Linked DNA regions of Homo sapiens. The protein of the gene in region 2 interacts with the protein of the main gene of each other region in a pairwise test. Each region holds a gene or a part of one and is shown on either strand. Other genes may lie near its edges.

Region 1 (3,500 bases), on a different chromosome or scaffold from region 2:
TCCAAATATTTGCAAATGTCATAAGTTTCATCCTGTTATTGATTTATAATCCATTCCATTTCTATTAATTTACTTTGTGTGATTTTAGTTAAATATTTAAGTGTATGGAGGCTTGCTTTGTGGCCTGCCATTTGTCCATCCTGGAAAATATTGTGTGTGTGCCTGAGAAGCAGGTGTGTTTGCCCTTGCTAGGCTGAGGGTTCTGCAGATGTTTGTTTCGTCAAGGAGTATTGTGTCGTTCATGTCTTTTTTGTTGTTGATCTTCCGCCTAGGTATTTTATTATTCCGTAAATGCTTCCTCTCAGCAGAATCACTGCCCAGTTTTATTCTGTATTGACAGTACTTTCTGGGAGACCTTGACTCAACCTCTTGTCTTCTGATTTACGCCACATGACCAGGGCGTGACCAGAGTAGACTGTGGCGTTTCTCGGGGTCTTGGTTGGAAGGATATGGTGGTGGGATTGGTGGGATTCATTGCATTGGTAGGATTCTTTTACGGCTTCTGTTCACAGAGCCCTGCCCTGGCTGGCTGTCCTGTGCTTCTGTTTCAGCTCCAAGCCCTCAGTGAGCCTCAGCCCAGGCTGCAGGCAGCAGGCCTGCCACACACAGAGGTGCCACAAGGGAAGGGAAACGTGCTTGGTAACAGCAAGTCCCAGACACCAGCCCCCAGTTCCGAAGTGGTTTTGGATTCAAAGAGACAAGTTGAGAAAGGTAAGCAGAGCCCAGCAGTTGCCCTGTTCCCAGCTCTCCAGAGCCCCATCAGAGGAAGCAGTCCCAGCGAGCTGCTGAGGCAGTCAGTGAACCCGGCAGCGGCGCAGCCAGGAGCAGGGACGTGTCTCTCTGGGCCCCTGGAATTGGGGCTTTGGGGCTTCTCTGACAGATGTCTCCTCCTTGTAAACGAAGTGCCTTGTTCCTGGGCAGCTGTGTAGAGAAAGGCCCAGGCTGCACCTTTATGCAGGACATTGGTGGGCTTGTGGGACTCGGGGGAGGCGGCTGAGCCCCAGACACTGGGAACCAGGAGGCTGCTGTGTCTGTGAGCAAGCCCTGGGTGGGCCTGCCTGCCCTGGCTCCCAAGTGCTTGCTCCAGCGGACCCGATGATCAGGTCACTCAGCAGGATACCCTTTTCCCTTTGTACCTTGTCAAGGTAATTTAGTCCAGGTGTTTTTTTTTTTTTGTTTTGTTTTTTTTTTTGGTAAGCTACTTTTCCCTTTGTCGCGGTTCTGACGATGAGCTGCAGGCACAGAAAGGCCTGCAGTCTGTGGCTGAGGTCACAAAAGGAGCTACCTGGTTGTTCTCCTGTGTGCAGCCCACCCCACCCCCACTCCTTGGGAAGGCTCTGGGAATTGAGTGGCACCAGGTTTTGCTTTTTTTTTTTTTTTTTTTTTTAAATCAAATGCTGGCAAGGTCACAGCTAACTGTGTTCTGTGCACAGAGGAAACCAATGAGATCCAGGTGGTGAATGAGGAGCCTCAGAGGGACAGGCTGCCGCAGGAGCCAGGCCGGGAGCAGGTGGTGGAAGACAGACCTGTAGGTGGAAGAGGCTTCGGGGGAGCCGGAGAACTGGGCCAGACCCCACAGGTGCAGGCTGCCCTGTCAGTGAGCCAGGAAAATCCAGAGATGGAGGGCCCTGAGCGAGACCAGCTTGTCATCCCCGACGGACAGGAGGAGGAGCAGGAAGCTGCCGGGGAAGGTGGGTGTGAAGTTTCGGGGGCCGCTGTGGACTCCCTTCCACCAGACACCCAGCCCACCTCCATGTCCTTCCCAGCACCAACATATCACCCTGAATTTTACCAAACAGCAGTCCACAATTTGCCAATTCCTTTTCGTTTGAAGGTTTCTTATTCGTTATCAAGAGGGAGGCAGGAAGGAAGAGCAGCATATGCTCTAGAACTCGAGGTTTTAGATGCAATATTGGCAGGGAGTCGAGGGGACCTTGCAAGTGGATGGCCTGCAGATGGGTGCTTAGCATCAAGTGGACGCCCCCTCCTGGCAGGCAGGCCACATGCCCCATTTTTGTATGTCCACCGTCGTGCAGTGTCTGGTGCCATTTAGACAATCAGTGCCTAGTGAATGAATGAAGGAAGGAAGGAAGGAATATTGGGTAGATGAAGGTTAATGCATATGTGAACATTGAGAAAAAATGACATGTGAATCACTCCTTTTTGGTTTGGTTGACTCTTTTCTTTTTAAAGAAATAAAGGGTAGGAATTGGAGATCAACCGACTATTCCAGGATGTATTTCAGTCCCTTCAGATATGGAAAATGTCCTTCCCACCTGAGCCAGGAACACTTCTGAGGACATGACACCTGCGCTCTGGGGTGGACCAAGTCACAGAAGTTGGAGAATACACTTATTTGCAGAAGTTACCTTGATTCCATTTAAATCTAATTTTCACTTCAGTGTCTTACTGAAGAACGTGTCCTTCCAAGTTCCAGTTAAAGAATTGGATTTTGTCAGCCTCCCCCTAAGTATCCCTGCTCTGTCCTTGTGTTCCGTGCTCACCCAGCAAGAAGATGCTTGTGGTGTGTGAGGCGGGGAGATCTCACTGGCTCGCTCAGCCTGTGGCGCTCCAGTGTCAGACCCCTCAGCGGCTGGTCACAAAGCGTAACAAAGGTGGGCCTGAGATGCCACAGTGCCTGCAGGATGCACCTGCTTCTAGATGCAGGTGTGGTGACCTCATTTGAAGAAACGCGGTGGACACATAGGCCTGTGCAGTTTCCACCCCAGGCAGTGAGCCAGAGAAAGAGACTAGAGCTGCTTTTCCAGGTGTGCACTTTTAAAAAAGATTTTGTTTGGCCGGGCGCAGTGGCTCATGCCTGTAATCCCAGCACTTTGAGAGGCCGAGGTGGGCGGATCATGAGGTCAGGAGTTCAAGACCATCCTGGCCAATATGGTGAAACCCCATCTCTTCTAAAAATACAAAAATTAGCTGGGCATGGCAGCACGTGCCTGTAATCCCAGCCACTCGGGAGGCTGAGGCAGGAGAATCGCTTGAACCCCGGAGGCGGAGGTTGCAGTGAGCCGAGATTACGCCACCGCACTCCAGCCTGGGCGACAGAGTGAGACTCCATCTCAAAAAAAAAAAAAAAAAGATTTTGTTTACCAGCCTGCATACACATATAAAATATGTAAGTTAAACCCTTTGAGTAGGTCTCTTGAAAGCCTTTTGTCCTCATCTTCTCTGGCTGCTGCCCACTCCAGGGAAGAATAGAGTAATGGGTGCTCTCATGCTCTAAGTATGAGGGACACCTTCTCACGTGTCTCACAGTGGCAGCTCCATTTCCTCTCTCCATTCTAAGGAGATGCTGTCATTAGCTGTAGATATCCGTTCCTTCCTAAAACAGTGGCACCTTTCTTTTATCTTGAGTTGATTATCTCTTTAAAAAATTGAGATTTGGGTTGTTAGTTTCTCCATGTTCTGCCTAGAATGCACCCTTGTATTTAGGGCCATGCTGTCTGTAGATTCCGAGTCCAAGTGGAGTACACATAATGCATGTG
Region 2 (5,454 bases):
TCGAGGGTGTGCAATTGCAGGGTCAGCAGCCGGGAGTGAACATCTCCTTAAATTGTGTGCCCCGGGTGCCTCACTCACCGCACCCTACTTCCATTTCAAACCCGCTACACTGTTTTCAAGCCTTACCTTTAAAAGCTATTTTCAGGAAATTCCCACCCCATTCTAGTTTTGTGCCCTCCTTGCACCCTGGAGTTTTAACTCACAGCACTTACAAAACTAAAGCCAAATGATTATTGATGTATTTATCAGTCGAATGCCTGCTTTCCCTGCTATGCTGTGAGCCCCTTAGAAGGTCAGGACTGAGTTTGTATTGTACATCCCAAAGCCCAACATGCAGTAAAGAAGTGATTGCTGAATGAACAAACATAGTTTTCAAATTTTTTGACACTATTTTTCACTGGCCTGGAGCAAGAGTGAGCATCCTCTTTTTGCCGATAAGAAATAATATTGCCTGAAACGAGAGGGTCTGTGGCTACCAAAGTGGTCTGTGTGTGTGACTGTGTGTTTGCATAGTGCAAATGTGTGGTGAATATGCATATTTGTGGGTCATGGTATATGTATGTTCGTGCATGTGTGTTGTATATATTCTCTGTGTTGTGTGTGCATTGCATTATGTGTATTAAATGGATGTCGTGCATGTATGTGTAGTACATGCAGGTACTGCGTTATGTGGTGCCTATATGCTTGGTGCATGTTACTTTGTGTATGTGATATGATATGCACAGCTATGCATTGTGCAATGTGTCATCTTGTGTGCATGTGTGTTAATGTGCATGTATTATGTGCATGGTTCATATATGTATTGTGTATTGGGGTGATGCCACATGCATTGTTCATCTGGGTGTGTGTTGCAGTTTGCTATTTGTTTTGCATATGTTCACGTGGTGCATGTGTGCACAGGTATTGTGTTGTAACTGTGTTTCTTGTGTATGATGTGCTTCTGTGGTGCATTGTGCTATAAATGCATTGTGTGAATGGGATATGCATATATGTACAAGTGTGTTGTGTTTATTATGCATGTGGTATAAAGTGCATGGATATGTTGTATGTGGCACAAGTGCAGGTAAATTTTGTGGTGTGTGTGCTGTGCACGTATTTGTGTGTGCTGTGTGTGTAGTGTGCATGGGTGTAATACGTGTGTATTGCGTATCTTGTGCATGTGGTGTGATGTGCACATGTACTGTGCATGTACTGTGCCTGTGTGTGCTGTAGTGTTTGTTTTACATGTTTTGTGGTACATGTGTGCGTATGTATTCTTTGTGTGTTGCATGTATGTTATACATGTGAGGTGTGAGTGATACATGTGTATATGTGCAGGCATGTTGTGTATGTTATGCATGTAGTGTGATGTTCATGAGTGTGTGATGTGCACTGTGAGTTGCGTGGTGCAAGTGTGGGTACATTTTGTGCTGTGTGTGTTTGATGTGCACGTGTGCGTTTATGTGTGTGTGCAACACTTCAGTGGTTGCTTCTTCCAGCCAGAGTAACCAACTCGTCTTGACTTGCCTGAGACTTCCCAGATTTTAGCACTGAAGGTCCCAGGCAGTCGGGAGGAAACTCCTCAACCCCTGCGAAGGGAGACGATTGGATTCTCCAATCCCCAGCTTGCCAGGGTTCTCACGGAACGGCCGCCAGCTTTGTGCGGAGGTGCTCAGCGCCCTCTGCTGGCCCCGGCTGGTGCGTGCGGCCTGCGCAGCCCAGGCCTTGGCTGCAGACTCCCCTCTCCAGTCTGCGGTTCAAGCTCTGGCGCCTTCCCTTAACTGGATTCCTCGCCTGCATGCACAAGAGAGTCCCTGCAAAGCAAGGCAAACGATCTCCACCCTCCCCCCAGGGTGACAGGACTCTTCGGCTCCTACCCCTTTAAATCTGGGCCACAATACAACACAGAAGAGAAACAGGCATATATTAAGTGCCTGCAGTATGCGGGCCCTGCACCGCTGCTTTCCCACCAGGACCAGCAGAGCGCTAGGACATCAGGAGCCTGTGCCTCGGGCTGTAGCGCACCCCGTGCTATCGCCAGCCACACATCCCCTTGCAATTCCATCCTTGACTCCTAAGCCAGACAAGCCCCTCTGGCCCAGTTCCTACACCCAAATGCCCAAACTAGCTCTGCCTGTTGTCCTTTCCCCCCTGCCCAGGCCACAGGCCTTTTTCTGAGTACCTTTAGAGTCATTTCTGGAGGTCAGTTTGAATAGGTGGCATTTGAGGAAAATTACCAATGATGCAAGAGCAAAAAAGAAAAATATCAGTGGAAAAGAGGTCAAAAGACAGTCTCTGAAAAGAGAGGCAAAATTACAGTGAACATTTATTGAGCACTTACTATGTGCTAGAGGCTCTGCTAAGTGGTTTTTGTTTTCAACTCTTCATAGAAAACCTCTAAGGTAGGTTTCATTTCATGGATGAGGAAACTGAGGCACAGAAAGATGGAGGGACTGGTGCCAGGTTATCTGACCAGGTGAGTCTGACACCAAAGTCATACTCTTAACCACCACACTACACTTTGCCAGTCTGCCACTCTCCAGACCAGAGATTGGGCAAGTCACATGGGCTGGAAGTGTTTTCATCTTAAAATGGGGAGAACTCACACGGGTCCATGGGGAGACAGTTGCGGAAATGCTTATCACAGCATCCTTGATGGTGCTGAGGAGCTGGAAGCCACCAGGATGTCTTGTCACAGGGCAGGAGGAGCTGGGTGCACCCTATGAGATACTCAGCCTGAGTTAGAAGCAACAGACTCTGGGTACATTCAACAATGAAGGGAGACCCTAAAAATCCCCTGCTGAGTGAAAAAGTAAGGCACAGAAAGCGGCCTACAGCACTGTATCATTAGGGGAAATGTAAATCCATGCAAACTAACCAATCCATTCTTTACAGGAACAGAACAAACTCAATGAAATGGTTGTGCTGTGGGAAAGGGAGGGTCCTCGGGGCAGAGGTGGGGATAAAACTGAATGAATACTGAGGCAAAATAGAGAAGAGCCCATGATGGAACCGCAAACAGGAACGGGATTAACTCAGCCCTTCAAAGCTGCTGTCAAAGAAGGGGCGGGAGGAACAAGCCCGGCCCATTTAGCCTCCTGTAGCACGGATGGTTTTCAAAGTTCTTCCAGGCCCCAGCTCTCCTTTGATCATCCTGGTATCCAGTGCAGGGGCAATGGGTTCCTAGGATCAAAGAGGCTGCTGTGTGAGCCAGTGCTTTGTAATCTACATCTACGGCTGAACTTGAGCGTGCATCCGAACAACTAGATGGCTTGTTAAAAATACAGATTCCTGGCCTCCATTCCTCCAGTTTCTGATTCAGTGGGTGTGAAGTGGGGCTCAACATTTGCATTTCTGCAAACTCCTGGTACTGCTGCTGCTGCTGCTCCCAATCCAGAGACACTTTGAGAACCTCTGCTCTAAGGCACACTCTTTATGCCGAACAGACTGGCCAGAGCAGTGCTCCTCAAACTTTAAGGTGCATGCGAATCTTCTAGGCATCCTGTTAAAATGCAGTCAAATTCAGCAGGTCAGGAGGGCAGCCTCAGATGCTCCATTTCTATCAAAGGCACTCCAAGGTGGCACCAGCACTGTTGGCCCACAGAGCACATTTTTCAACAGTGAGGAGTTACACCACGACTTCCCAAAAGTATGTGCACACCCAACCCCCCTATATTGCTTGTTAAAAAGACGTAGATGTTCAGACCCCCTCACTGGCAATGCTCCAGAGTTCTGAGTTGGAGCCCAGTAATCAGAATTTTTTTAAGCTGATGCTAGATAGTCTGGGGAACTACTGGTAGAGAAAGCGAGTGGAGAGCTGGTAGAGTTTGGGAAGTTTCCACGTAGGAAGCAATACTAGAGTCAGAAAATAGAAAAGAGAGCAGAGAGGAACAGGCTCCCTCATGGCCCCGGCAGTTTGTCCCTAAACATAAATGTCAACTCAGCGGTAGCTGGCTGTGTGCTACCTGCTTTTAACTTGCCTTTATGGTTCAGCCTGTGTTTCCCTGGTTTATGTACCCATAGCTGTGATTAAACAGTTGTGGACCTGTGGTTGAATCCTGGTACCACCTGTTACTGTGTGACCTTGTACAAGTCACTCAACCTCTCTGAGCCTCAGTTCCTCAACTGTAAAATGGGATAATAATAACACCCTTGCATAAGGTTGTAGAGAAAATGAGACACAACGTGTGATGATTTTCCTTGTGTATTAAGTCCAAACAGAAGTTGCCCTTATCATATTCTTGAGTAAATGGCCTAGGAGTAAGTTGGAGTGATGGAGAAAAATGGAGCTGTGGATATCATATTGCTGTCCTTTTTCTGACTGAAAAGTTATTTTCTGGCCCTGGAGGCTGCTAAATCATCATAAATGTGCAGGTACATTGGAATTATCTGGAAAGTCTTAAAAACTATTCATACTCATGCTCCACTTCCAAGGATTTCTATTTAGTTGGTCTGGGGTGAGGCCTGGGCACCAAGAGCTTAAAACTCCCCAGGTGGTTCTATCGTGAAGCCAGGCTGCAAGGCCCCAGGTGGTCAATGGCTCTTCACAGCTGGTGGGGAGAGCTGGGAGGGATATCTTCTGCTTTGTTCCCCACTTCCTGCCCCAGAGGCCATAATGGGCAAGGGGTCAGAGGGAAGGGCAGGGGCGGGAGAGTCGCCTTGGCTGCAGCTTTGTTGTCAAGTAGAAGATGGTGTTGCAATCCACGCGGGGTCCACTCAGTTCCCTGTGAAGACTCTGTCCTGCCAGGCCGTGATTCACCCCAAGATGACTCCCCACACCCCTTGTTGGCTGTGATAGCCTGGCCTGCAAAAGAGGAAGGAGGCAGCTGACAGGGCATCAGTAAATCCAAGAGAGCAGACATGCCCTTCGGGATGAGGGACAAGAACAGGAACAAGCTGGGCTTGAGACCTGGGGCTGGAACTTAGCTCAATTCCCCCCACAAGAGAGGGAAGACAACCCAGTATGGGCAGTGTGAGTGGTGCTTATGGGGCCTGGCTGTCCAAGTCGTGAAGGGATGCCACAAACACCAACCTTCCAGCCCTCGAGTCCACAGTGGCCGCAGCAGAGGCAGTACCTCCTCTGGACCTCCACTCTGGATCCATCACCCCGCAGTGGGGTTGCAGCGTAGACAGAGCTGACTATATAGCGCCCTTTTTTGGGTCAAATGCATTCATGGTAACAAGTGTGGTAGGGTCTTACCCTGCACTTCAGGACAAACCCAGCTGGCCTTGGGGGTTAGATTAGATGTGGTTAATCTGCACCTTGTCCTGGGGTGGGAGGAATTGATGTTATTTACTCCAGTGCCACTCACAGTGTGGTCCTCAGACCTGCAGCCTCAGAAATGCAGACCCTTCAGACCCCACTTAAACCTACTAGATGAAATCTCTACTTTAACAGGATCCCTAGGTGATTTCCATTCATGTTAAAGTTTGAGAGCCATTATGAGGCCAGTGGTTCACAGCCCCCACTCACAT

What was found.
Region 1: the proteins of GALNT15 (region 2) and GOLM1 interact in binary tests that used the Homo sapiens proteins (3 or more experiments, as listed by UniProt).

The regions. Positions count from the first base shown.
Region 1 is NC_000009.12:86,033,559-86,037,058, reverse strand, and holds part of GOLM1 (Golgi membrane protein 1), read left to right. Parts: intron 1-551; coding exon 552-711; intron 712-1,433; coding exon 1,434-1,691; intron 1,692-3,500.
Region 2 is NC_000003.12:16,176,856-16,182,309, forward strand, and holds part of GALNT15 (polypeptide N-acetylgalactosaminyltransferase 15), read left to right. Parts: intron 1-5,454. UniProt on the Homo sapiens protein: Catalyzes the initial reaction in O-linked oligosaccharide biosynthesis, the transfer of an N-acetyl-D-galactosamine residue to a serine or threonine residue on the protein receptor.